Homo sapiens: one gene and its partners. The protein of the gene in region 1 interacts with the protein of each later gene in a biochemical or structural test. Each region holds a gene or a part of one and is shown in the gene's direction. Other genes may lie near its edges. The genes, in order: STAT3, FYN, RPRD1B, RPS6KA1, PML, GTF2I and MAPK9.

Region 1 (3,500 bases):
TTTAAATGTCATTAAAATAAGTTATTTTGTCCTTTTTAGAAAAGTAATAACATGCTATTATAAAAAAAAAGACTTGTAGGAATATAAAATGTGTGTTTTACATGTATCCTGTTAATTGACTTGCTTTTATTCAGATTTTTTGCAGCCCTTTCTGTTTACCAGGTTATCTTGGAGACATATTTATTCCAAATTCCTTTTTTTTTTTTTTTTTGAGATGGAGTCTCGCTCTGTCGCCCAGGCTGGAGTGCAGTGGCGCTATCTTGGCTCATTGCAAGCTCCGCCTCCCGGGTTCACGCCACTCTCCTGCCTCAGCCTCCCGAGTAGCTGGGACTACAGGCGCCCGCCACCACGCCCAGCTAATGTTTTTTTTTTTATATTTTTAGTAGCGACAGGGTTTCACCGTGTTAGCCAGGATGGTCTCAATCTCCTCACATTGTGATCCGCCTGCCTCGGCCTCCCAAAGTGCTGGGATTACAGGCGTGAGCCAGCACGCCTGGCCTTCCAAATTCCTTTTAACAGCCTAGCAAAAGAATAATAAGGAAGGTAAATCTGCCCCTACAAGAAAATAATGCTTCGACGATCCGGCTTTCCTTCCTGCTACCCCCAGCCATAAGAATAAATGACCTTGCTCATCACTGAAATTTTACCTGACCTTTGAATTTTTAACTGCGTCAGCCAAAGAACTTATATTTTGAGTATTCCTAAGGTGATTGCTATTGTAGTTTTGAAACACTTGGTTGGTATGTTTGAGGGTTTCATGGTCCAAAGTTACTATAGCAGTTAAAAGAGTGGACTATCAGGTCAGACCTATTGGGCTTTAATCCCAGTTCTGCCTTCTCTTAGACCTTGGGCCTGTTGTTTTCACTTCTCTGGTTTTCAGTTTCTCTGTCCACAATTGTGGAAACGAGGTCCACTTGTAGAGTAATTGAGAGGATGAAGCAAGATGATGCATATCAAGTACTTTGCATAGTGCCGGGCAGACAGGTAACATTCAAGTGCTAATAATTACTATTATTACTATTTATTTTTTGAGACAGGTTCTCACTCTGTCACCTAGGCTGGAGTGCAGCGGTGAGATCACAGCTCATGACAGCCTTGACCTCCTAGGCTCAAGTGATCCTCCTGCCTCAGCCTTCGGGGTAGCTGGGGCTACAGGTGTGTGCTACCACCCTCAGCTAATTTTCTAATTTTTTTGAGTCAGGATCTCGTCACGTTGCCTAGGCTGAATTACTCTTATTAAAAACTATAATATCAGGCCGAGTGCGGTGGCTCACGCCTGTAATCCCAGCACTTTGGGAGGCCAAGGCGGGTGGATCACCTGAGGTCAGGAGTTCAAGACCAGCCTGCCCAACAGAGTGAGACCCCCCCCGTCTCTACTAAAAATATAAAAATTAGCCAGTTGTGGTGGTGGGCACCTGTAATCCCAGCTACTCGGGAGGCTGAGGCAGGATAATCGCTTGAACCCGGGAGGCGGAGGTTGCGGTGAACCGAGATCGTGCCACTGCACTACAGCCTGGGTGACAGAGTGAGACTCTGTCTCAAAAAAACCGAAAAACAAAAAGCATAATTAGGGTGGTAACGCTTATACATAGGGGCAGGTGGAATAAAACATAATTAGGAGGTCGGGCATGGTGGCTCACGCCTGTAATTCCAGCACTTTGGGAGGCCGAGGCGGGTCAGGAGTTCAAGACCAGCCTGCCCAACATAGTGAGACCCCGTCTCTACTAAAAATATAAAATTTAGCCTGTTGTGGTGGCGGGTGCCTGTAGTCCCAGCTACCCGGGAGGCTGAGGCAGGAGAATTGCTTTTGAACCCAGGAGGTGGGGGTTGCAGTGAGCTGAGATCGCGCCGCTGCACTCCAGCCTGGGAGACAGAGCAAGACTCCGTCACAAAAACAAAAAACAAAAAACTGTCATATCAAAAACTAAACTAAAATGGTAATATCTGTTAGATATTACAAAGTCAGGCAAATTATGATTCATGGCAGCCACTAATGACCCAAAGGAGAGAAAGAATAATTAGCAGATTCTAACCTAATGGGAAAAAAACTAAATGAATAGGGATGGGGGACTTACATTCTGTTAGAGGAAATTGAGGCTGTCATATAAAAGGAATAGGTAAGGCAAACTGTAAATTCCTGTTTACACAAATGCCCTTCTGATAAATCTCTGCATTGCCCACAGTCCATGATTACCTCTCCCTTATTTTAAGTAATATTTAACACATTAAAAATGGATTACCACCCAAGGAATTGCTCCCGACCCAGAAAGTGCAGGTAGTGTTGAAGGTTTGAGGGGAAGAGGAATGATTAGAGTTGGTTGTGTCTCAGGAAGAAGCCAACAGGAGGAACCTTATTTTGAGTCAGGTAAAGAAGGTGGGAGTGAGGAGGCATCCCGGTGGCCAGGTATGAAGCTGGGAGCTGATTGCTGCACATTACTCAGCTGAATTAAATGTGCCCTCACATCTGTGTGTGTGCGTACATGCAAATGTACATGTGTATGAGTTAGTTGGAGGGGTAGACCTTTATTTTCCTGTCCTGTAACTTTCCTTTGCAAACTAATCTGTATTCAGAACAGTGTTGCAGTTAAGAACCACCCAGCTTGTCCATGAAACAGGTTCTCTCACCCCATCTCCCCAGTTTTAGAGAAGGCAGGAAAGAAAAGGCAGTGCTTTTCTTTTTTCCTGGCCGTATGCGGGGCAGGAAGAAGCCAGCAGAGCTTGAAAGAGAAAGTAAACCTTCTGGGAAATAAACGGCTTGGCTTCCCTATTGTGGAGGAGGAGTGCAAATTATTAGGGGGATGTTTGGGTAGTTTTTGTAGAAGCCATTTCTGAAAACTGATTTGGATTAGTGAAGGTAAGCCCAATTTAGGAAAACCCTGCCCAGTCTGGTGTCAGCCACCTGTTTCCCGCTTTGTTTGATTGATTTGATTAGTTTGTGGTATTCTGACCTCTCATTTTTATTACAAGAGTTGGAAGATTTGAGTCTGAACTTGAGCACCTGCTTCGGTGAAAGCTTCCTAAAATGCATGTTTTTTCACATTTTTTCTCATGTTCATTTTGTTTTGCTTTTTAGCAAACACTTTTTCTGACAGAATCTAAAAGCATTAGACTTTTCTTGTTTTCCCCTTCTCTCCCCACAATGTAATCTTGAAAACCCAAATGTTAGCTGTGTAAATTACCTCTCCCGTAAACCAAACAAAGTGCAATATTGCATTGAGTTAGCATTGAAATAGTCGGCCTTTGAATTTTTTTCTACTTGTGGTTTAGACATAATAAATATTTCATCTCAGACTGACTTTCTCGACAAATCAGTTTTGCATTTGGGCCTCTTTTCATCAGTATGTTTAGGGAAAGCACATTTATTGAAACATTAACCAAAATGAAACATAATTAGGAGGCCGGGAGCGATGGCTCACGCCTGTAATCCCAGCACTTTGGGAGACCAAGGCATGTGGATTGCTTGAGGTCAGGAGTTCAAGACCATCCTTGCCGACTTGGTG
Region 2 (3,500 bases), on another chromosome or scaffold:
CATTCTCATGCAAGCCATTTATCATGTTCCCCACCAATACTGCTGTTTCCTAACTAGGCTTAGACTTACACAACCCACAGCTCTTAGATCTATTATGTCTATTGTGTTAAATTAAACTTTTATAATGTACATCAGTTTCTGTCCTAACACCCAGATATCACCATTATTTTGTTCTTTCTGAAAACATATAATTATTAGATATGCAGTTTATACATTTTATCAAAGACTGGTTTTATGTGCAATTGTTAAAATGATTGCTTTCTTTCCTAGATTAGCAAGTATTATATGCCACTATATAATACATGTTCACATGTGCCTATAGATATAGGTGCACATGTATAGACACATGTCTATATCCTATTAAGCCTAGAGATATTTTTTTGTGTGACCCATTTCTCCATTTTCTATTGTTCTCCAGGACAAAGGCAAGACTCAAAAATAGTATATGATTTACCTCTACTATTGCTCTGTGCACAATCATTGAAATATGTATGTATAATTTTTGGCATGAAAAAGCAATCTTTCGAAAATGACAATAAGAAATGTCTGTTGATCCCTTGCACTAATGAACAATAGAAAATATTAACAGCACTTGCAGTACTAGTTGATTATGGCATTGGCTAACTCGGTTTATGTGGATTCTAATGAAACATTTGGGAGAAATGGAACAAAATATCTCCCTGAGCTTAAGTGATATACTCAAAATGCCTGCATGTTGTAAGGATTTTTCAAATGCTGAAATATATTTCATTACAGCCAAACATCAGCAGGATCCCCAGGGTTTGGATCATTTGAAAATACTGTGTTCGAAAGGGCACCTTAATAACATTGTAAAGCTGGAAGGAAAGAGGGGATATGAACAATAGACACTTTTTTTAATCTCGGGGAAAAAAAATCCATCTCACGTTAGACTTGTTTTTATATTGGCTTTCCCTCTTCCCTCTTTCTCTCTCACACAATAAAATGCCTTTGAAATGCTGACACATAAATAATTTCCTACCTAAACATCTCAGAGCCTGATTCCATCAAAAAGAAAGGAGTAAAAAGCAAGTTACAGCCCAGCAGCACATCTGCTTTCCCTGGGTCCGGGGGCTGCCAGGAGGGAGCGGGAGGTCTGTCCACCTCACAAGGCAGGCTCTGTCAGCTTTTGTCACTCCCTGATTTCTTATTCTTTGTTACCTTTTTTCGCCTGACTGATTTTTACTTGGCATTTAAGTTCCCCTTAGCACTGCCAGATTCTAAAAGGTTATATTCTTTTTAAAAAAGAAGAGAAAGAAAGAAGGAAAGAAGACAAAGAAAGAATAAAAACCTCCGAGTGTTAACTACTTTTTCCTTTCTTCTTTTTTTTATAAAGAATACATTCTTTCACATCTTGAATTTCTGTGAATTTTAGTTTCCATTCTTTCTCCTTTCAAACCAGACACCTAAATTATACGTCGAAGACTGTTAAAAAGTTGTTTTTTTTTTTTTAATGGAAAATATCCAAGAAGCAGCCCAGGAGTATCTGACATGGTGGAATGGAATCAGTTAGAAAGCGAAGAAATCACTAAAAAAAGTTACTTCTTTTTTTCCCCACCAGTTATAATCTTCAACCTTACTAGTTTATAACAGTTTAATGTCCTATAGAAGGATCCTCCACTAAAGTTATAATTTTAAGTATAGTCATATAGAGAGATCCCTAATCCCCTGGGTAATCTAGATACTAAAGGTGGGGAAGAACAGTCATATTGACATTCTTTAATCCAAAACCACTGTTTGAAATTAGTAAGGATATTTTCAGCATTCCCAAAAACATGTTATTAGCACGTTGAGCTGAAAACGTTTTTCTTCCTCAGTGAGTACAGAAACCAAAGCAGTCTGCGTGTATGTCTATGTATAGACTGTATCGTACCTGGGCTCATGGAGTAGTCTAAATTTAAAACGTCCTCTCTTCTACCTCCAATGAAAATGTTTCCGTGTGTGGCGTCTGATCTTCCACCGTGTGTGTGGTCGTCTGCTGGTGTAGCGCTGTTTAAGGAGCGCTGTGTGCTGCTAGTGTTCCACGATGTGTGTGGTCGTCTGCTGGTGTAGTAGCACTGTTTGAGGAGCACTGTGCGCCGCTAGTGTGGGTTTACACTTATGAGTGTTGTCATTACATGTGTTCTGCTCTTCTCTCCCTCTCCTGCCCCTGCCCTGCTCCATCAGAGAGAGCTGCAGGTCTCTGCTGCCGCCTAGTAGTTCCCTGTCACAAAGGGATGCCAAGGCTTACCGATCTGTCTGTCAAAACCAAAGATGTCTGGGAAATCCCTCGAGAATCCCTGCAGTTGATCAAGAGACTGGGAAATGGGCAGTTTGGGGAAGTATGGATGGGTATGCTGAGACTCAATTACTCTCTTATTAGCTTCCCCGTTTGGAAGATCCCAAACACCAAAGATGGAAGGTGAAAATAAAGACTGCGTGACCGGGAAGAAAGTTTGAATTACTAATAGTGGGGAATAATAATTTCAGTTTTGGTTTTAACATTCTGGAATTCCTAAAAAAAAAAAAAAAAAAAAAAAAAGATAGTAAGTGGGCAAAATTGGCAAATGGCTCAAGTTGTACTATTACATGACTCTCAATTCATAAACCAGCAAATGGTCCAAGGAATGTTCCAGCTGCCATAAAATATCTTGCTCTTCATTTCCAAAAGCAAATATTTGTTGAGTGTCATCCTAACGGGCAAGTCACCTTCCATCTTTCCTAGTGCATGCATAATTATGGATTATAAGGACTGTGTTTTCTTTATTAATTCCCTTTCCTGTAGAGAAAGCTGATGGTTTGTGTTTTAACTTAACTGTGATTGCATCGAGTTGTACCCCACAAACTTCTGGATTGGCTAAAGATGCTTGGGAAGTTGCACGTCGTTCGTTGTGTCTGGAGAAGAAGCTGGGTCAGGGGTGTTTCGCTGAAGTGTGGCTTGGTAAGGCAGAGGGCACATTTTGTTTTGGCTGCATCTCAAAGCCGATTAAAAGGATGGTTTTGAACAAAAATGCACACACAGCCGTTGGGACAAAGACACTTAACCTGGATAACTAGACGGGCACAGGCCATCCAGATTTTCAGAATATGCTGATACCTTGCTGTGCTCATCTGTCCTACTTCATGTGGTTAATTAAGGCACCCGCAGAACAGGAAACCAGTACACTATGAATCTGGTGTTTCCTCTTCCTAAGAAATGGGAAGGTAAGATACTGTATATGGGCAGCCATAAGAAAGACCATGGACGTTTTGCTCAATGGGCCTGGGTTTGAATCCTTACTAGCTAATTAACCACGAACAAGGGGCATATTTAACTCCTTTAAGCCTCAGTTTTTTCATCTGTAAAATTGGAATGATACCTTTTTGTTGTTGTTGAGACGGAGTCTTGCTCTATCACTAGGCTGGAGTGCAATGGCGCGATATTGGCTCACTGCAACCTCCACCTCCCAGGTTCGAGTGATTCTCCTGCCTCAGCCTCCCGAGTAGCTGGGATTACAGGTGCC
Region 3 (3,500 bases), on another chromosome or scaffold:
AAAGAGAAATCAAAGACGATTTCTAGGTTTTTGATGTAAGGAATGACTGATGGTGCCCTTTACTGAAGTGAAGATTGGGGAAAAGATTTGGTGGAGGAAATCACGAGTTTTGTTTTGGCCAGGCCGAGTGTGAGGTGGCTAGTGAATATTCCAAGGAGTGATGCCAAATAGGCAGGTGGATAAAATAGTCTGAAGCTCAGTAGAGACTTGATTTCTGGAGACATAAATTTGAGAGTTACCCACATGATATTTACTTATTGTTGTGGGCCCCAAGACCACTCCCAGGTTTGGTGATTCCCTAGAATGACTCACAGGGCTCATCATGTAGTCATAGTCATGGCAGTGATTCATTACAGCTAAAGGATCCAAAGCAGCAGCAGCAGCAGAGGGTGATGTGCATGCAGTACCCGCAGCAGACTGGAGCGCTCTGGGTATAAGCTTCCGAGTCCTCTCTCAGTGTTATTCCACAAACACGCTTAATTCCTCTAGCACTGAGTTGTGATGTGTATGATGTGTAACCTACCAGGAAAGCTCATTAAAGACTCTGTGCCCAGAGTTTTTATTGGATTGGTCATGTAGACACCCTCTGCCAAAATTCTAAGCTCCCAGAAATAAATCAGGTGTTCATTTTTTTTTTTTTTTTTTTGAGACGGAGTCTCACTCTGTCGCCCAGGCTGGAGTGCAGTGGCTTGGTCTTGGCTCACTGCAAGCTCCGCCTCTCGGGTTCATGCCATTCTCCTGCCTCAGCCTCCCAAGTAGCTGGGACTACAGGCGCCCGCCATGATGCCCGGCTAATTTTTTGTATTTTTTAGTAGAGACGGAGTTTCACCATGTTAGCCAGGATGGTCTTGATCTCCTGACCTTGTGATCTGCCCGCCTTGGCCTCTCAAAGTGCTGGGATTACAGGCGTCAGCCACCGCGCCAGGCTCAGGTGTTCATTAAGAACCGTATTGCTTGCACAAACAATTTAGGCCCAGTAAACCACCCTTACCAGTTAGGAAATGGTAGGGACACTCGGAAATCCCAAGTTCCCAGACCACTTCCCTAAGGGTAGCAGTCTGGCCTTCTGTGTTAACTCCTTTCTGAACCAGCTTTACATGAGGTACTGTTGGAAGTGTAGGGAATACTTAGAATTCCTGCCCTTAGTAGGCCTACCATAGGCCTGCTGTGCATGAGATAAGACAGAGTTGTACAAATTACTGTGGTTGTACTGAAAAAGTGCCATAGAACTGTAGAGGAAGAAAAGGCCCCCAAGGCTGGCTTTGCAGGGACTCAGGTGTCCAGCTGACACGTCAAGCAGCCAATTCTGTTTGTGTGTATCATATACATTTTTCACTCTTAAAGGTCAGTTTTGCTATCTGTATTGAAAAATAAAGTGATTGAATTTGTTATTAATCAGAATTAAAATATGAAGTGTTCAACGTAATATTAAGTTGTGTATGTAATTATTTGCCATCTTCCACTTTATTCATAGATTGTTGGCAAAGATTGTTCAGTCTTTTTTTCCACTTAAAGATTTCTCAGTTTAGATTGGAGTTAGTACAACCTGAAAATATTTCTCTTTCTGTTATAAAACGGCTTTATTACTTTGGTTGTATCTAATTCCAGATGCCAAAGTGACTTCCATTTCGCTGGAGCTACTTCCTTCAAAACCTAATCAGTAGAAAGATTTCTTGAATATTTTATGTATAACTTTGAAACTTATCTAGCAAAACTTTGATTTACCACAATGTTCAAGGAAATATCTGTCCTGGTTAGTTATATTCACTAATTAAACTAGAACCCCCCTTTTGGCCTTTAGTAGTAAAAGCCTTTTGAAAATGTTTTGTGGTTATAACAGGTTTGAGCATCATTTTCCACTGTGCCTGAAACTGTACACAAAACCAGTCTTAGCCTGAATGGAGTCCCAAGTATCTCCAGGAATGGTGGGTGGTGGGTGTGTGTTGTGATACCCACCTACTTTTAAACTAAGTCCTTGATAAGAATTTATTCTCGAGACTGGTTTCTCTTTCTTTTAAGCGAACAGAGAATCTGCAGCAAACAGATTTTATGCTAAAAGTACCAGCTAGTTCATTAACTAAGTTCTGATTAGTTGCAATTTGGTTTTACTAATTATAATGACTTTATTTTTCTAAGCTATACATTTGCTCACATTAGGGACCTCCCATTGCCTGCAGGCCACGTGCTTTAATATGGCATTCAGGGCTCGCTGTAATTGAATTCCACCCTCCTTCCAGATTCTTCTGCAGTTTCCGCACATTCCCCCATATACTTCAGCTACTTGAATTACTCCTTTCCCTTTGCCTTGTTCAATTTTGGCTATTCCATTTGAAGGAGAAGAGATAGCATGAACAAAGGCACATGCACATGAGAGAACAAATTCTGAGTAGCAAATACATACGGGTGGGTGTTGCTGGAATGCAAAGTTCCAGGTAGGGTAGGGAAAGGAGACTAAAAACAGGTCTGAGGGATTGCTGAGTCGAGCCCTAGAGGTCAGGACCCAGGCCTTCTTATTCTTTGTAAACCTTCATTGGTCGAGCTGAGGAGTGCTTAGTTGATTTCTGCCATGACCTTGATACAGTAAGATGATTGTTGAAAGTTAAGTAACTGTATTACTTACCGAAACCCATATACATTTTTCTGGAAAAGATTACAATTTGACAGATATTCATTGTGCTTGTTCAAGGGCATATAGCAATGGGAGAAAATGACAAATCTGCACCCCTGTGGAAATTACATTCAAATGGAAAGCGTGTAAACAAAAAGTAAACTATTGAATATACAGCATACCAGAAAAGTTGTATGGAGAAAAATTGAGTAGGGGCAGGGAGTGTTATTTTCAACGTGGAGATTAGGGAATGACACACTGAAGGTGGTGTAACTAAACATACCCCTGAAGGAGGAGAGGAATTGAGCTGTGTGGCCACATGGGGAATGTGGTTCCAGGCAAAGCAAACTTTTGAAGTGCTAAGGCTCTGAGGCAGTGCTAGGGTAGCTGTTGTTGAGGCAGGAGGTTGGAGGACGGGGGTGGGGAAGAGTGGGTAGGAGATGAGGCCAGGGAAATAACAGCTGGGTTGGGAAAGGCCTTGGAGTCTTTATAAGGACTTTTATTCTGAGGGATACTGGGAAGAAATGTTGGCAATTTTGAACAAAGGAGTGACGTGGTCTGCCTTAGTACAGCAGCTAAAATTGTATTTTGAAAACTCGAGAACAGGTTGTAGGAGGACAAGGGTGGAAGCGAGGAGACCAGTAATGAGGCTACTGTAGTAATGCAGGCGAGAGATGATAGTGCCTTGGGCCAGATTGATAGCAGAGGAAAAGATGAGAAATAACTCATTTCCGGATATATTTTGAAGGTGGAGTAAAAGTGTTTTATCACAAATACCAAGTAATTGGGTCATATTTTTAAGCTTTATAAAATTAGCAGTAGAAATGTTTTTCCTTTTTTTTCCCGAACCCTCACTTCTGACTTTAAAAAGTTTAACAAAAAAAGAATTAAT
Region 4 (3,500 bases), on another chromosome or scaffold:
CTGTCTCACTCCGCCCGACTCTCTCACTATGGGGCTCTGTGGGTCTCTTTGTGTCTGGTGAGAGAGTGGGAGTGGGGATGTGTGGGTGGTGAAGGCCACAGTAGAAAAGCCAGGACCCCTGCCCGGGGCACCTTCCAGCCCACTGGGAAGACCAAACACATCAGGCTTACCATCACGTCAGGGAGAAAGAATCTGACCCAGCCACACTGTGTGGTGGCTGAGCAGAGGTGACAGTGCCCATAGGTCAGGGACAGGCATGGGAATCAGCTTTGGCTGCCCTGACTGCCCGGCCTCCGTGTACTTATCTGGAACAAGGGCACAGCCACAAACCCACTCATTCCCTGGGGTTGCTACAAGAAGCCAGTGAGGGAGCTTCTGGGAAGGAACCTGGTGAATCCTAACTTTTTGGCCAGATATTGACAGTGGGTGTGGGGTGGAATGTTCTGGGAAACCTCCTATAAGGGCATGTTTTAGGAGAGGGTGTGCTTTTCTTCTCTCCTCTCCTCCCCTCCCCTCTCCTCCCCTCCCCTCCCCTCCCCTCCCCTCCCCTTCCCTCTCCTTCCCTTCCCTCTCCTCTCCTCTTTTCAAGATGGAGTCTCGCTCTGTTGCCCAGGCTGGAATGCAATGGCGTGATCTCAGCTTACTGCAACCTCCACCTCCTGGGTTCAAGAGATTCTCCTGCCTCAGCCTCCCGAGTAGCTGGGATTACAGGCATGTGTCAGCACGCCTGGCTAATTTTTGTATTTTTAGTAGAGACGGGGTTTCACCATGTTGGCCAGGCTGGTCTCGAACTCCTGACCTCAGGTGATCCACAAGGGGGTGCTTTTCTCACTGCACTTGCACGCCTCTGATGACAGAGACAGCACTTCTCCAAGCAGTCCGCTGGGCAACGTGACAAGTGCAGCTTCGTAGGAGTCAGGGGCCGGAGGAGCAGCATCAGGCAAGGCTTCTCAGAGGAGGGAGCGTGCGAGTTGAGTCTTGAAGGATAGGCAAGGAGTGGATTATCTAGTTAAAGGGAACAGTGTGTGCAAGGGCTCAGAGACCCCTCTAAGGATCTGAGAAGTCCAACATGGCTCAGCTGTGGTATGGAGAGAGAGGAGGTGAGGATCACAGGGCCCTCAATTGCCAGACTCAGGAGCTGGACTTACTCCTGAAGGCAGACGGGAACCTTTGAAAGGTGTGGGCAGGGTGGCAGATTTGTGGTTGGAACCTTCCCTCTGGCTGCTGTGCAGAGATGGACCTGAAGGGGCTGACGTAAGATGGGGAAGCTGGGGAGGAAGCATCCAGGAAGGGATGAACTGTCTTGGCCTGGGATGGAGGTGGATGTGAGAGTCTTTTTTGTTCCTCATGCGACAGGACTGGGCTGGTCTAATAAACACATATGAGCAGTTGGGCCAAGGCCTGTGATGGACAGGCCCTCTGCAGGCTCCCGCCACGGCCAGCCCCTGAGGCAGGTCTGGAGGCCCTGTGCTCCCCCTTTGCTGGGCTGCCTCAGGGTCGAGGGGACCTCCTCAGGTACCCTCACATTCTCCTTCCATCCGTACAGATTCCCCAGGCATCCCCCCCAGCGCTGGGGCCCATCAGCTGTTCCGGGGCTTCAGCTTCGTGGCCACCGGCCTGATGGAAGACGACGGCAAGCCTCGTGCCCCGCAGGCACCCCTGCACTCGGTGGTACAGGTGAGGGGGGCAGGGGGCTGCTGCTCCATTATCCTTTTCTAAAGAATGGCTGAGTACACAGGCTCTGAGTTGGACAGAACCAGGTTCATACCCTCATGCCACTGTGGGACCAGTAGGGCCTCCAACATAAAACAGGGACAGTAAGGCCCACCTCACACAGTGGCCCTGATAATTGGATGATGATATGGGTGTACATTTCCCAGCACAGAGCCAGGGTCTGGGTACATGTCAGGAGGTGCCCAGGGTGGTGGTGCCGAGTGACTGTCGTGTCTCCGGCATAAGTGTAGCGAAGGACTTGGATCTCATCACACTTGTTCCCCATTTGTACACTTCTACTGCTAATGAAAGTTTCAGGTTGAGAGGCAAGAATGTAGACTGTGGAGCTCATTGCATGGGTTCCAGATTCACAAGATAATGGACTTTGGGGTTTTTTGTTTGTTTGTTTTTGAGACGTAGTCTTGCTCTGTTGCCCAGGCTGGAGTGCAGTGGCACAATCTCAGCTCACTACAGCCTCCACCTCCCAGGTTCAAAAAATTCTCCTGCCTCAGTCTCCCGAATAGCTGGGACTACAGATATACACCACCACACCCAGCTAATTTTTTTTTTTTTTTTTTGTATTTTTAGTAGAGACGGGGTTTTACCATGTTGGCTAGGCTGGTGTCAAACTCCTGACCTCAAGTGATCCGCCCACCTCAGCCTCCCAAGGTGCTGAGATTACAGACATGAGCACCTGACCAGATAATGGACTTTGGATGAGATACTCCCTTCCTCGTGCCTCAGTTTCCTCATCTGTAAATGGGGGAAATGATAGAAGCTTCCTCCATAGAGCTGTTATGAGGATTATTAGAGTTAATACATGTAAAGTTCATGTGGGCTGGGCACGGTGGCTCATGCCTGTAATCCCAGCACTTTGGGAGGCCAAGAAGGGTGGATTGCTTGAGGCCAGGAATTTAAACAGACCCATCTGGCCAACATGGCGAAACCCCGTCTCTAAAAATACAAAAATCAGCTGGGCGTGTTGGCGCGTGCCTATAGTCCCAGCTACTTGGGAGGCAGAGGTTGCAGTGAGCTGAGAACGTACCACTGCACTCCAGCCTGGGCAACAGCGTAAGACTCTGTCTCAAAAAATAAATAAATAAAATAAAAAATAAAGTTAAGGTGACTATGTAATTTATTTTCCAAACTGGGACATCTTAGTCCAGGACAAATATTAAATCAGACTGGATGCAAGGACCGCATGCGCAAGCCAGGGCTGGCCGTGGGGCATGCAGTCACCTGATGAAAGTGCTTAGAATAGTGCCTGGCACACAGCACACACTAAGCACCATTCAGCATTGCTACGGCTAATGTCCCAGAACCTTGAGACACCCCATGAGTTGAGCTGTGACACCCCAGAAAGGGAGGCAGGCCACTCAAAGCCGTACTTAGTGGCACAGCTGGAACTCAGCTCAGGGCTCCTGCGTCCCTCCCAGGCCTGCCCAGACTTTTCAGAACTAAAGTCCTCTCCATGTGTGTTGTGACCCTGTTTCCCACTCCCTACACTGCCCTCTGACCACAGGCTGCAGTCCAGGCAGGCTGGGAGCCAGTGAGTATGCCCATTATATAGAGTAGAAAACTGAGGCCCAGAGAGGGGCAGGCTGTCACCTGCGGTCACATGGCCAACACTCTACCCCAAGTCTCCTGGCCCTTCCCTGGTGCTGTCTCTACTGAGCCAAGACCTTAGGTCCTGGGGGATGACCCCTAGCACTCTAGAGCCAGGGGTCAGCCACAATTTTTGGTCTCCTACAGCAACTCCATGGGAAGAACCTGGTTTTTAGTGACGG
Region 5 (3,500 bases), on another chromosome or scaffold:
CCAAACTGAGTTCCTTGAAGGCAGAATGTATCCTACACCTCTTATATCTCAGAGCCTATTACTGTGGGTGATGAGAAGTAGATGCTCAATAAATGGTGCAGTGAGAGCTGGAGGGCCTGAATAAATGGGGGTATTGGGGTGCTGATAAGCCAGGGTTTTGCATCATCCAATGACTGGCTGGAATGGAATATGAGGTCCTACTCCAGGGTCCAGCTGTAAGGGTGGTTGGCCGGTAGGTGGGGGCTTTTGGGACTTCTCCAGGCCTCACCTGCCTCTCTGGTCCCCCAGCGAGCCCCCGCTTCGGAGGAGGAGTTCCAGTTTCTGCGCTGCCAGCAATGCCAGGCGGAAGCCAAGTGCCCGAAGCTGCTGCCTTGTCTGCACACGCTGTGCTCAGGATGCCTGGAGGCGTCGGGCATGCAGTGCCCCATCTGCCAGGCGCCCTGGCCCCTAGGTGCAGACACACCCGCCCTGGATAACGTCTTTTTCGAGAGTCTGCAGCGGCGCCTGTCGGTGTACCGGCAGATTGTGGATGCGCAGGCTGTGTGCACCCGCTGCAAAGAGTCGGCCGACTTCTGGTGCTTTGAGTGCGAGCAGCTCCTCTGCGCCAAGTGCTTCGAGGCACACCAGTGGTTCCTCAAGCACGAGGCCCGGCCCCTAGCAGAGCTGCGCAACCAGTCGGTGCGTGAGTTCCTGGACGGCACCCGCAAGACCAACAACATCTTCTGCTCCAACCCCAACCACCGCACCCCTACGCTGACCAGGTGAGTAGGCCGGCACAGGGTGGGGTGGTGCATCCAAGTACCAGGTAGAGGGCGAGAGGAGCAAAGATCCAAAGAGTCACACAGCTGAGGACAAGGAGCTTCTGGGGCCTTGCAACTCTAAATGTGGTCTGCAGATATGCAGTGTCCGTGTTGATGACCACAATTTATGCTGCCAGTCCCCACGCAGGTGGATAGTAAGTTTCCAGTTTCCTCCTGTAATAAATAATGCTGCAGAATCATCTTTGCATCTTTATCCAGTAACTTCTTTAGGATAAATTTTTAGAAGTGCCACTGCTGGGTGTAGGGGGACGGGAATTCTACATTTGATACATGTTACCAAACTGCCCTTTAGAATTTAGTGGAATTTTCCGAGAGCACTGACACGGAATCTCAGTAAGGCTGGATTCTAGGATCAGAGACAAGTAGTTAGTTTCTGTCTGAAAAGTTGAAACCATTAACACCAGGCAGCGCTATCTGAGAATGTCTGTATGGGGAAAAAAAATCACATCCAGTTGTAATTATTTTTATTAAACAGATTTTAACTCAGTTTTTTAATAGGTAATACATTCGTACAGTTCACGAACAAAATTTGTAAAGAGGAGAGAGAGAGTGCAATCTTCTGTCCATGCCCAACTGCCTAATTCCCACCACTTCTCCCTCTTCCCATCCACAGGTAGCCATTGTTACTAGTTTTGAATGTTTCTTCTGAGAGTTTCTTTACGAATATATATGCAGGTAGGAGCAATCTTATCAGGTCCTATTTTCCCTCTTTTAGCCAAAAAGGTAGCATAACTATGTGAACTTTTCACCATTAGCAATAGATTGTTCATAGAAGGCGCTTCTTGGTTCTTAGAGATCCACTTGCAAAATGAAAGCATTTTTCGCTGGTTTTTGACAACTCAGAACTATATATGGCTAAACCACATATTTGCTGAACTACATATCTGCTAAACTGACTGTGATTTGTTTCCTGCTTTAGGATAAACTTCCCACACTATCAGAATAAGCTTTCCCCTCCGACTCCTCAACAGCTGGTATCACCACGTTTCTTAGCTTATTGTAAAGGTTGAGTGGCTTTCCACTTGTTTATTGGCCATTGTGTTTCTGCATTTGCGAGTGGCCTGTTTAGGTCCTTTGCCTGTTGTTGTTGTTGTTTCCGTTGAGGAATTAAGGGACTAATTAAAGAATTCAGGAACAAATTCCTCGAAAGAAAAAAATGTATGCATTTCTTTTGCTCTTACAATTTATGCAGTTTTAAAACTTACATATTTATTGGATTTTGATTGAAATTGCAATAAATTAGGAGAAATTGGCTTTATCTCTGGTTCTATCTTTTGGATTTAAAAAATTTTTTTTAATTTTTTTTTTTTTTTTTTGAGATGGAGTCTCGCTGTGTCACCCAGGCTGGAGTGCAGTGGCGCGATCTCGGCTCACTGCAACCTCCACCTCCCGGGTTCACGCCATTTTCCTGCCTCAGCCTCCCAAGTAGCTGCGATTACAGGTGCACATCATCATGCCTGGCTAATTTTTTGGCATTTTTAGTAGAGACAGGGTTTCACTATAATGGTCAGGCTGGTCTCCTGACCTCAGGTGATCCACCTGCCTCGGCCTCCCAAAGTTCTGGGATTACAGGCATGAGCCACCATGCCCAGCCTTATACTAATTTCTTAATGAATTTGTAAGCTTTCATGTTTTGAACGTGATAATGCAGCCATCCCACGGGATCCATGGGAGTCTGTTTCAAATTCATAGATGCTCAAGTCTCTGATATAAAATGGCATAGTATTTGTATATAACCTCTACACATCCTCCTGTATACTTTATTTTTTATTTTATTTTTATTTTTTGAGACGGGGTCTTGCTCTGTCGCCCAGGCTGGAGTGCAGTGCTGCACTCGTGGCTCACTGCAGCCTCAATCTCTTGGGTTCAAACAATCCTCCCACCTCAGCCACCAGATTATACAGGACTGCAGGTGTGCACCACCACACTCAGCTAATTTTTAAATTTTTTGTAGAGACAGGGTTTCACGACATTGCCCAGACTGGTCTTGAGAACTCTTGGGCTCAGGCAGCAACCCTCCCTAGGCCTCTCAAAGTGCTGGGATTACAGGTGTGAGCCACTGTACCCATCCCCTCCTGTATACTTTAAGTCATCTCTAGATTACTTATAATGCCTAATACAATGTAAATGCTATGTAAAGAGTTGTTTTACTATATTTTTGAATTTGTATATTTTTTTATTGTGGTACTTTTTTAATTGATTTTTTTTCGCCTGAATATTTTTGATCCAAGATTTGTTGAATCCACGGGTGCGTAACCTGCAGATACTGAGGGCCAACTGTACATATAAATTGTTTAGCGTAGTGCCTGGCACATATTAAATACTCAGTGAATGTTAAAATTCTATTATAATTTCTCTGCTCTAGAACAATTTGAAGAATATAAGAAATTTAGGCTTATAAAAGTTTTTTGAAAAACCATCTTGGAACTGGTGCCTTTTTTATAGTAGATTTTTGGGAACTTTTCCCATTTTTGCCATGGCATTAATCTGTTTTGGCTCTTGTGTCAGATTTTTGGAAGATTTTCCAGTTCATCCTGAGTTATCTTTCATTATTTAAAAATCTCCTATATGCCTGTAACTATACCCCCTTTTTTTATTTCTGATGTTGTATATTTGTGGTTTAGCAGTCTTTTCAAAGTACTGTACTTTTAGTCTTTCCTTAGATTGCTTACTGATTTT
Region 6 (3,500 bases), on another chromosome or scaffold:
ACAGAAGTAAAAGAACAATATTTGTTCTACTTTTGATGCAAGATTTATCTGGCATAATGCATTGAACAGTTTATTATTGAAGTCTACACGAGTCAATGGAACAAGCATTCATTGAATGTCCATGATATGCAGGACATAAGAAGGTTTCCTTTTAGAGCATGGAGCCATTTATATCATCTCTTAATTGTTAGATGTATTTTGTTTTGTTTTGTTTTGTTTTTTGAGAGGGAATCTTGCTCTGTTGCCCAGGCTGGAGTGCAGTGGTGCGATCTCCGCTCACTGCAACCTCCCGCCTCCTGGGTTCAAGCAGTTCTCCTGCCTCAGCCTCCCTGTAGCTGGGATTACAGGTGCCTGCCACCATGCCCAGCTAATTTTTGTATTTTTCGTAGAGACAGGGTTTCACTATGTTGGCCAGGCTGATCTCAAACTGCTGACCTCAGGTGATCTGCCCACCTCGGCCTCCCAGAGTGCTAGGATTACAGGCATGAGCCACCGCGCCCAGCCTGTTAGATGTGTTTTAAAATAAATAGAAATATAATTGATTTTCTTGCTTGCTTTTGCTCTGGAGTGGAGTGGAGTGAGGATAAAACAGAATGGAATCACCCTGTTGATATTTACTAAGATAGAAGGACTGCAGCAAGATCATAGCCCTAATCTTCCTGTAGCAAGTGTTACCTGCTAGCTGTTCCTGAATACACTGAGTTTTGCTTTTTCCTAGCTCTAATGAATGTTTCGTTCTTCCTCTTTTTGTACAGTGTCAGCATTGTTTTAGAAATAAATACATTCTAGAATCTTAGGAATAATTTTATTATTGTCTTTTTTTTTTTTTGAGACGGAATCTCATTCTGTTGCCCAGGCTGGAGTGCAATGGCGCAATCTCAGCTCACTGCAACCGCTGCCTCCTGGGTTCAAGCGATTCTCCTGCCTCAGCCTCATGAGTAGCTGGGACTACAGGCGTGCGCCATCACGCCTGGCTAATTTTTGTATTTTTAGTAGAGATGGGGTTTCACCATGTTGGCCAGGCTGGTCTCAAACTCCTGACCTCAAGTGACCCGCCTGCCTCGGCTTCCCAAAGTGTTGGGATTACAGGTGTGAGCCATTGCACCTGGCCACGAATCTTAGAAATAATTTTGGCCATAGGAAAAGGAAAAGTTATACCTCTTATTTTATAGTAATAATGTTTAATAATCAAGTTATTAAACCCATTAAATTGAGAACACTTGTATTACTGTTATTTTGACAGTAAAGGAAGAATGGTATGCCAGAATCACTAAATTAAGAAAGATGGTGGATCAGCTTTTCTGCAAAAAATTTGGTAAGTCTGTTTTTTTTAATTACCCCTTCAACTAAAATGTATTACTGAGTAACATTTTTTTAAATGTTGTTTTATTTTAGGAAAGTAAATACAGTGAATAGGACTCAGCTTTAGTTTTCCCTGTTTTTTTTTTTTGGGTTTTTTTTTTTTTCTTGAGAAGGAGTCTTGCTCTGTTGCCCAGGCTGGAGTGCAGTGGTACGATCTCAGCTCACTGCAACCTCCTCCTCCCGGGTTCAAGCAATTCTCCTGCCTCAGCGTCCCAAGTAGCTGGGATTACAGGTGCCCGCCACCACGCCTGGCTAACTTTTGTATTTTTAGTAGAGATGGGGTTTCGCCATGTTGGCCAGGCTGGTCTCAAACTCCTGAATTCAGGTGATCCACCCGCCTCAGCCTCCTAAAGTGCTGGGATTATAGGCGTGAGCCACCGCGCCCGGCCCCCATTCTATGAATTATCTGTGGAAAGTTATTTCCTTTAAAATGGCATGCTCGTGAGGTTGAAGGGGTAAAGAACATTGATCTGGTTGCCACGCAGATGAAAGTGTAGTCGGAAATGTGTTACCAGTTTGCCATAGCCGATGGAGGAGGGTAATTACGGTCCTGAACAGTTAGTAGCAAAAGGCTGCTTCCAGATAGTATTTAGGTTGTGTCCTCTATTGTCCATGATGATTTTCTTTCTCTCTTTTCTTCCTAAGGATATTGAAAAACAAACTTTAATCTTTTAAAGATCTCAGAGCTATTAAGATTGTCTTAGGACCAGGACACTTAAATCTGCCCAAATCTGGCTGTTGATGATCGGTCATCTCTACTTGTCTTTGCTGTATTAAGTCTATTCAATAGTTAATAAATATGTTTCTAGAAAGAGTTTTTTTCAAGTAAAACAAAATTGACCTGTGCCTTTCTTTGGATTGTACTAAAATCTGATTTCAATACAAATGTAGTCTCCCGAATTGCTTTGATTTTTGTCCAGCGGAAGCCTTGGGGAGCACTGAAGCCAAGGCTGTACCGTACCAAAAATTTGAGGCACACCCGAATGATCTGTACGTGGAAGGACTGCCAGAAAACATTCCTTTCCGAAGTCCCTCATGGTATGGAATCCCAAGGCTGGAAAAAATCATTCAAGTGGGCAATCGAATTAAATTTGTTATTAAAAGGTAAGATGATAATCTGTAGAAATAGTTTCAGTGTCTTCCCTGAGAAGAGGTTAATTTGATGAAGAAGGGCCTTTTGTTTACCTTATGACTTATTTCTATTGACAATGAAGGCATTAATATTTAGATTCACTTAGTGAACAAATATTAGTATAAGCATCAGATGTGCAAAATTGGGTCTAACAAGAACACTGTCCTTGGGGCCTTCATACAAAGAAAAATGCACTGAAGGCCGGGCGCGGCAGCTCACGCCTGTAATCGCAGCACTTTGGGAGGCCAAGGCAGGTGGATCACTTGAGGTCAGGAGTTCAAGACTAGCCTGGCCAACATGATGAAGCCCCATCTCTAGTAAAAATACAAAAATTAGCTGGAAGCGGTGGTGCAAGCCTGTAGTCCCAGCTACTCGGGAGGCTGAGGTTGGAGAATCACTTGAACCCTAGAGGCGGAGGTTGCAGTGAGCCGAGATCGTGCCACTGCACTCCAGCCTGGGCAACAGAGCGAGACTCCATCTCAAAATAATTAAAAAAAAAAAATAGAAAAATGCAATGAAGTGTTATTGAGCGTTTTTAAGGGAGAAGGCAAGGATGGCACACCCAGCTCGGTCACTTGTGCATCCAGAAGAGATGGAAGGTGTTTCAAGTGAAGGAAATCATATGAGTAGGGGGAGGAGGTGGCAAATATGCCTGCGTATCCACAGAACTCACCCACCGTGTGTGGAGTGAGGACTGCCACGTGGGCGTGGTGGGGTTGCATGGATCGACTTGGGTGGGCAAGTGGAGGAAGGCCTGAGATCCTACGAACACAGAGGCAGTCACGAAGTGGTCTCGAGGCAGATGCCTCTGAAAATAATGTGGATCCGCCCTTTAGAAAGGTAATTCTGGCTTGATTTTGAAGGATAACACAATGGTTAGTTTGGGTGCGGGGTTAGGAACAGAAGGCCTCTCTCCACTCATTGACGGGATGTGGAAGGGTAAACCTTCCTTACTGATTGGGGTCATGCCTCTGTGTGTTTGTTGGGACTGAGTTATAAGGGATAG
Region 7 (3,500 bases), on another chromosome or scaffold:
AATAGACTAGAAGTCTTCCAAGCAATTTTACCTTTTTTAGTGCCTCATTTTTTTTTGAGGCATTACTGTTGACTTTACATATGATTTAATTTTTAGCCACCACCTCAAATTTATGATGCCCAGTTGGAAGAAAGAGAACATGCAATTGAAGAATGGAAAGGTAAAGATGGAGCTTATTTTGATCCTTCCTTTTGACATTTCTTCCAATCCTGTAGAGCAGAGGCTTTTCATTTTGTGACATTTCCCTTCAGGAAGGGGCAAGAAACCCTGCGACCCACTTAGCCTCTTTCTCCCCAGTTTCCAGTAGAAAATGAACTTGAAGAGAACAGAGTTAGAGAGGAACATTTATGAATTTCTTATCATTTGCTTCAAGAGGGAAAAATAATATTTTTTTCATGGCTTTTCACATATTGATTTATAAACTGAGCTTAGTAATTGTATCATACTTATATTGATTGATATGTTTTTAAGCCATGTAGTTGTACATATGTTTTAAAATCTAGTTTGGGGGAAATTGCAGATTGAAAATATGCAAATAGGTATTATTACCACTATAAGATTAACCAAACAACCCACAACAAACTATACCTGTAATGAAGAGGTTGAACTAACAATTTTTCATTAAGAAGCAGGATCAGTAGTAACTGAGAACCACAGTCAGAGTCAGTCAACACTGATGAGGGTCATGCCCCAGGGCCATCCTGGGGTGTGGGAGTGCCGGTTACCTGTGTGTGCCCGTGCTCAGCAGTGCATGCACACAGCGTGCTCACTGGCCTCAGTCAATGCTCACTGGCCTCAGCGAATGCTTGCAACGTGCTAATGTTGGTTTATGAATACTGACATTTTAGGAATCCCTCATCACTTACTTCGTAGGTAATTAGTTTTTCTTACAGATGAAAGTTGAGGAAAACCGAAGTTGAAATTAAGAAAAGACTTAGGCCTGTGGATTCATTTCTGGCCAGTGTGGGGGGCTCCTAGCCCACATGTGGGTGCTGGTTACCTTTGGAGAACCCCAAGTAACCACATAGAGAAACATATTCAAATGGGTGTGAGAATATCCAATCCCCTACAGTGTTCTGTGGGAGCCACTCCACTTCATAAAGCCCCCTTATGGATCCAGAACCACCCTACATGTTTTGCTGCCTTACTAGTTGCATTGAAAAAGATGTAATGTAGTCCAGGCGCAGTGGCTCACACCTGTAATCCCAGGACTTTGGGAGGCCAAGTGGGGCAGATGGCTTGAGGCCAGGAATTCAAGACAAGCCTAGCCAACATAGCGAAACCCTGTCTCTACAAAAACTACAAAAGTTAGCCAGGCATGGTGGTGAACACCTGTAATCCCAGCAATTTGGATGGCTGAGGCATGAGAATCACTTGAATCCAGGAGGTGGAGGTTTCAGTGAGTCAAGACCATGCCACTGTACTCCAGCCTGGATGACAGCATGAGACTGTCTCAAAAAAAAAAAAAAAAAAAAGAAGAAGAAGAAAAGAAAAGATATAATGTATCAAAATATGAATATTTTGGTCCAGGTAGACTATATTACTGAATTGACTCTGTCTTACAATTAAAAATAACAAATCGCAATGCCTTTGTTCCAGTTGATTTGGAAGCAGAGTTTAGAGATACAGTGAAACTGTTTAGAAACTGATTAAGCATTTTAACTTGTATTTTTATTAAAGAGCTAATTTACAAAGAAGTCATGGATTGGGAAGAAAGAAGCAAGAATGGTGTTGTAAAAGATCAGCCTTCAGGTTAGTGATTGCTTTAATTGATTGTATGATATTTTTCTTTCCCTATTCAACTTTTTTTTTTTGAGACAGAGTTTCGTTCTGTCGCCCAGGCTGGAGAGCAGCGGCGCGATCTCTGCTCACTGCAACCTCCGCCTCCTGGGTTCAAGCAATTCTCCTGCCTCAGCCTCCCGAGTAGCTGGGACTACAGGCACGCGCCACCATGCCCTGCTAATTTTTGTATTTTTAGTAGAGACGGGGTTTCACCATATTGGCCAAGCTGGTCTCGATCTCCTGACCTTGTGATCTGCCCGCCTCAGCCTCCCAAAGTGGTGGGATTACAGGCACGCACCACCATGCCTGGCTAATTTTTGTATTTTTAGTAGAGACGGGGTTTCAGCATATTGGCCAAGCTGGTCTCGATCTCCTGACCTCGTGATCCACCCGCCTCAGCCTCCCAAAGTGGTGGGGTTACAGGCGTGAGCCACCGCACCTGGCGTCTTTCCCGATTCAACTTTTATAAATGGCAGCAACATGTGAAATGCCAGCCTGGCTAGCATCAGATTTAAAAACCGCTGTATGAATAGCCAGCCTTTTTGGCTTGTCATAGTGGTGGTGGTGGTGGATGACATTTTACTGATGTGCCAGGCACTGAACTTTGTTATAAGCATTTCTCTTTCATCTTTGCAATAACTGCTGTCACCTCCATTTACAGATGAAGAAATTGAATTTAAAGCCTTTTCAATGTTGATAACCCTTTGTACTGGTCCCACCCAAAATGCCAATCTAAGTAAAATGGAGTATGGTATTCTTTTTGAGAAAATTGTTGATATCATTTTCCCATTTTTCTGCTTGATCTACTGATCTTCATAGTGGTGGAAGCCTCTAATGACCAGGTAGTTGTATGATCATGAGACTCTGATATGAGTCGTGTTCACTTACGTCTGAAGGATTCTTCCTGTTTACTAAATGAAACGCTCACGTTATATCATTGTCTCTCTCCCACTCCCACTGGGAAGCATGCACACACATGTGTGCGGATGTGCAGAGAGCACAGCTTACTTTTTATTCTTGAATTTTATGTTCAACATGACGTATGTGTCAAGCATCTAGAGATTATATAACTTCAGCAAGAACTTAGGTGCTTGTTAACTGAGCACACACGTATGACTGCAGACGTCGATCTCAGAGAGTGCATGTTGTGTTTTTATTCAAACCAGACTAAAATATGGATAGTAGGAAGTAGGATAGTTTCATTTGCTTTAAAAGATTAAAATGTCAGTTTTCTGGAGTTATAAAACCATAAAATATACAAGGCCACTAATTTTTTTCCTTTTTCTGGTATATAGTCTTTATTTATTGCAAAAGATTTCTTTGAAAGTTGATGCTTTTTTTCCTGTAGATTTAGTGTTTATGTTATAAATTGTTACAATTCAAGTGTCTGGTGACACTGGAATCCTAGTCAGGCTTAAGCTTTTGTGATACTGCATTTTCAGATAAATATAGCTGTGTCCTTTTGATGTCTGCTTGAAAGCAGCAGGTATTTTTTAAGTAGCTAACATGATTATACATGGCCACATATATGTTTAGCTACTGAGAAAAAAAGAAGAATCTTGCAAGGAAAGACATAGGAATATGGGACTCTTGGCCCAAAGAAAGACTCAAGGAAAAGTTCAGAAAGTCCAGCTGACTGACTTCTTGTCTATACTCATAGTTAGGATTGGGAAACTGCAAAAGGACAGAGCCGAGAAATGGCCTGCAGTCTCGCTGCC

What was found.
Region 2: the proteins of STAT3 (region 1) and FYN form a complex in vitro, tested with the Homo sapiens proteins (one study listed by BioGRID).
Region 3: the proteins of STAT3 (region 1) and RPRD1B form a complex in vitro, tested with the Homo sapiens proteins (one study listed by BioGRID).
Region 4: of the proteins of STAT3 (region 1) and RPS6KA1, one has a biochemical effect on the other in vitro, tested with the Homo sapiens proteins (one study listed by BioGRID).
Region 5: the proteins of STAT3 (region 1) and PML form a complex in vitro, tested with the Homo sapiens proteins (one study listed by BioGRID).
Region 6: the proteins of STAT3 (region 1) and GTF2I form a complex in vitro, tested with the Homo sapiens proteins (one study listed by BioGRID).
Region 7: of the proteins of STAT3 (region 1) and MAPK9, one has a biochemical effect on the other in vitro, tested with the Homo sapiens proteins (one study listed by IntAct).

The regions. Positions count from the first base shown.
Region 1 is NC_000017.11:42,378,443-42,381,942, reverse strand, and holds part of STAT3 (signal transducer and activator of transcription 3), read left to right. Parts: intron 1-3,500. UniProt on the Homo sapiens protein: Signal transducer and transcription activator that mediates cellular responses to interleukins, KITLG/SCF, LEP and other growth factors. Once activated, recruits coactivators, such as NCOA1 or MED1, to the promoter region of the target gene.
Region 2 is NC_000006.12:111,698,953-111,702,452, reverse strand, and holds part of FYN (tyrosine-protein kinase Fyn), read left to right. Parts: intron 1-2,184; coding exon 2,185-2,349; intron 2,350-2,782; coding exon of another isoform or gene 2,783-2,938; intron 2,939-3,500. UniProt on the Homo sapiens protein: Non-receptor tyrosine-protein kinase that plays a role in many biological processes including regulation of cell growth and survival, cell adhesion, integrin-mediated signaling, cytoskeletal remodeling, cell motility, immune response and axon guidance.
Region 3 is NC_000020.11:38,043,746-38,047,245, forward strand, and holds part of RPRD1B (regulation of nuclear pre-mRNA domain-containing protein 1B), read left to right. Parts: intron 1-3,500. UniProt on the Homo sapiens protein: Interacts with phosphorylated C-terminal heptapeptide repeat domain (CTD) of the largest RNA polymerase II subunit POLR2A, and participates in dephosphorylation of the CTD by RPAP2. Transcriptional regulator which enhances expression of CCND1.
Region 4 is NC_000001.11:26,557,261-26,560,760, forward strand, and holds part of RPS6KA1 (ribosomal protein S6 kinase alpha-1), read left to right. Parts: intron 1-1,546; coding exon 1,547-1,677; intron 1,678-3,465; coding exon 3,466-3,500. UniProt on the Homo sapiens protein: Serine/threonine-protein kinase that acts downstream of ERK (MAPK1/ERK2 and MAPK3/ERK1) signaling and mediates mitogenic and stress-induced activation of the transcription factors CREB1, ETV1/ER81 and NR4A1/NUR77, regulates translation through RPS6 and EIF4B phosphorylation, and mediates cellular proliferation, survival, and differentiation by modulating mTOR signaling and repressing pro-apoptotic function of BAD and DAPK1.
Region 5 is NC_000015.10:73,997,716-74,001,215, forward strand, and holds part of PML (protein PML), read left to right. Parts: intron 1-288; coding exon 289-761; intron 762-3,500.
Region 6 is NC_000007.14:74,734,218-74,737,717, forward strand, and holds part of GTF2I (general transcription factor II-I), read left to right. Parts: intron 1-1,243; coding exon 1,244-1,315; intron 1,316-2,282; coding exon 2,283-2,466; intron 2,467-3,500. UniProt on the Homo sapiens protein: Interacts with the basal transcription machinery by coordinating the formation of a multiprotein complex at the C-FOS promoter, and linking specific signal responsive activator complexes.
Region 7 is NC_000005.10:180,236,584-180,240,083, reverse strand, and holds part of MAPK9 (mitogen-activated protein kinase 9), read left to right. Parts: intron 1-96; coding exon 97-160; intron 161-1,680; coding exon 1,681-1,752; intron 1,753-3,500. UniProt on the Homo sapiens protein: Serine/threonine-protein kinase involved in various processes such as cell proliferation, differentiation, migration, transformation and programmed cell death.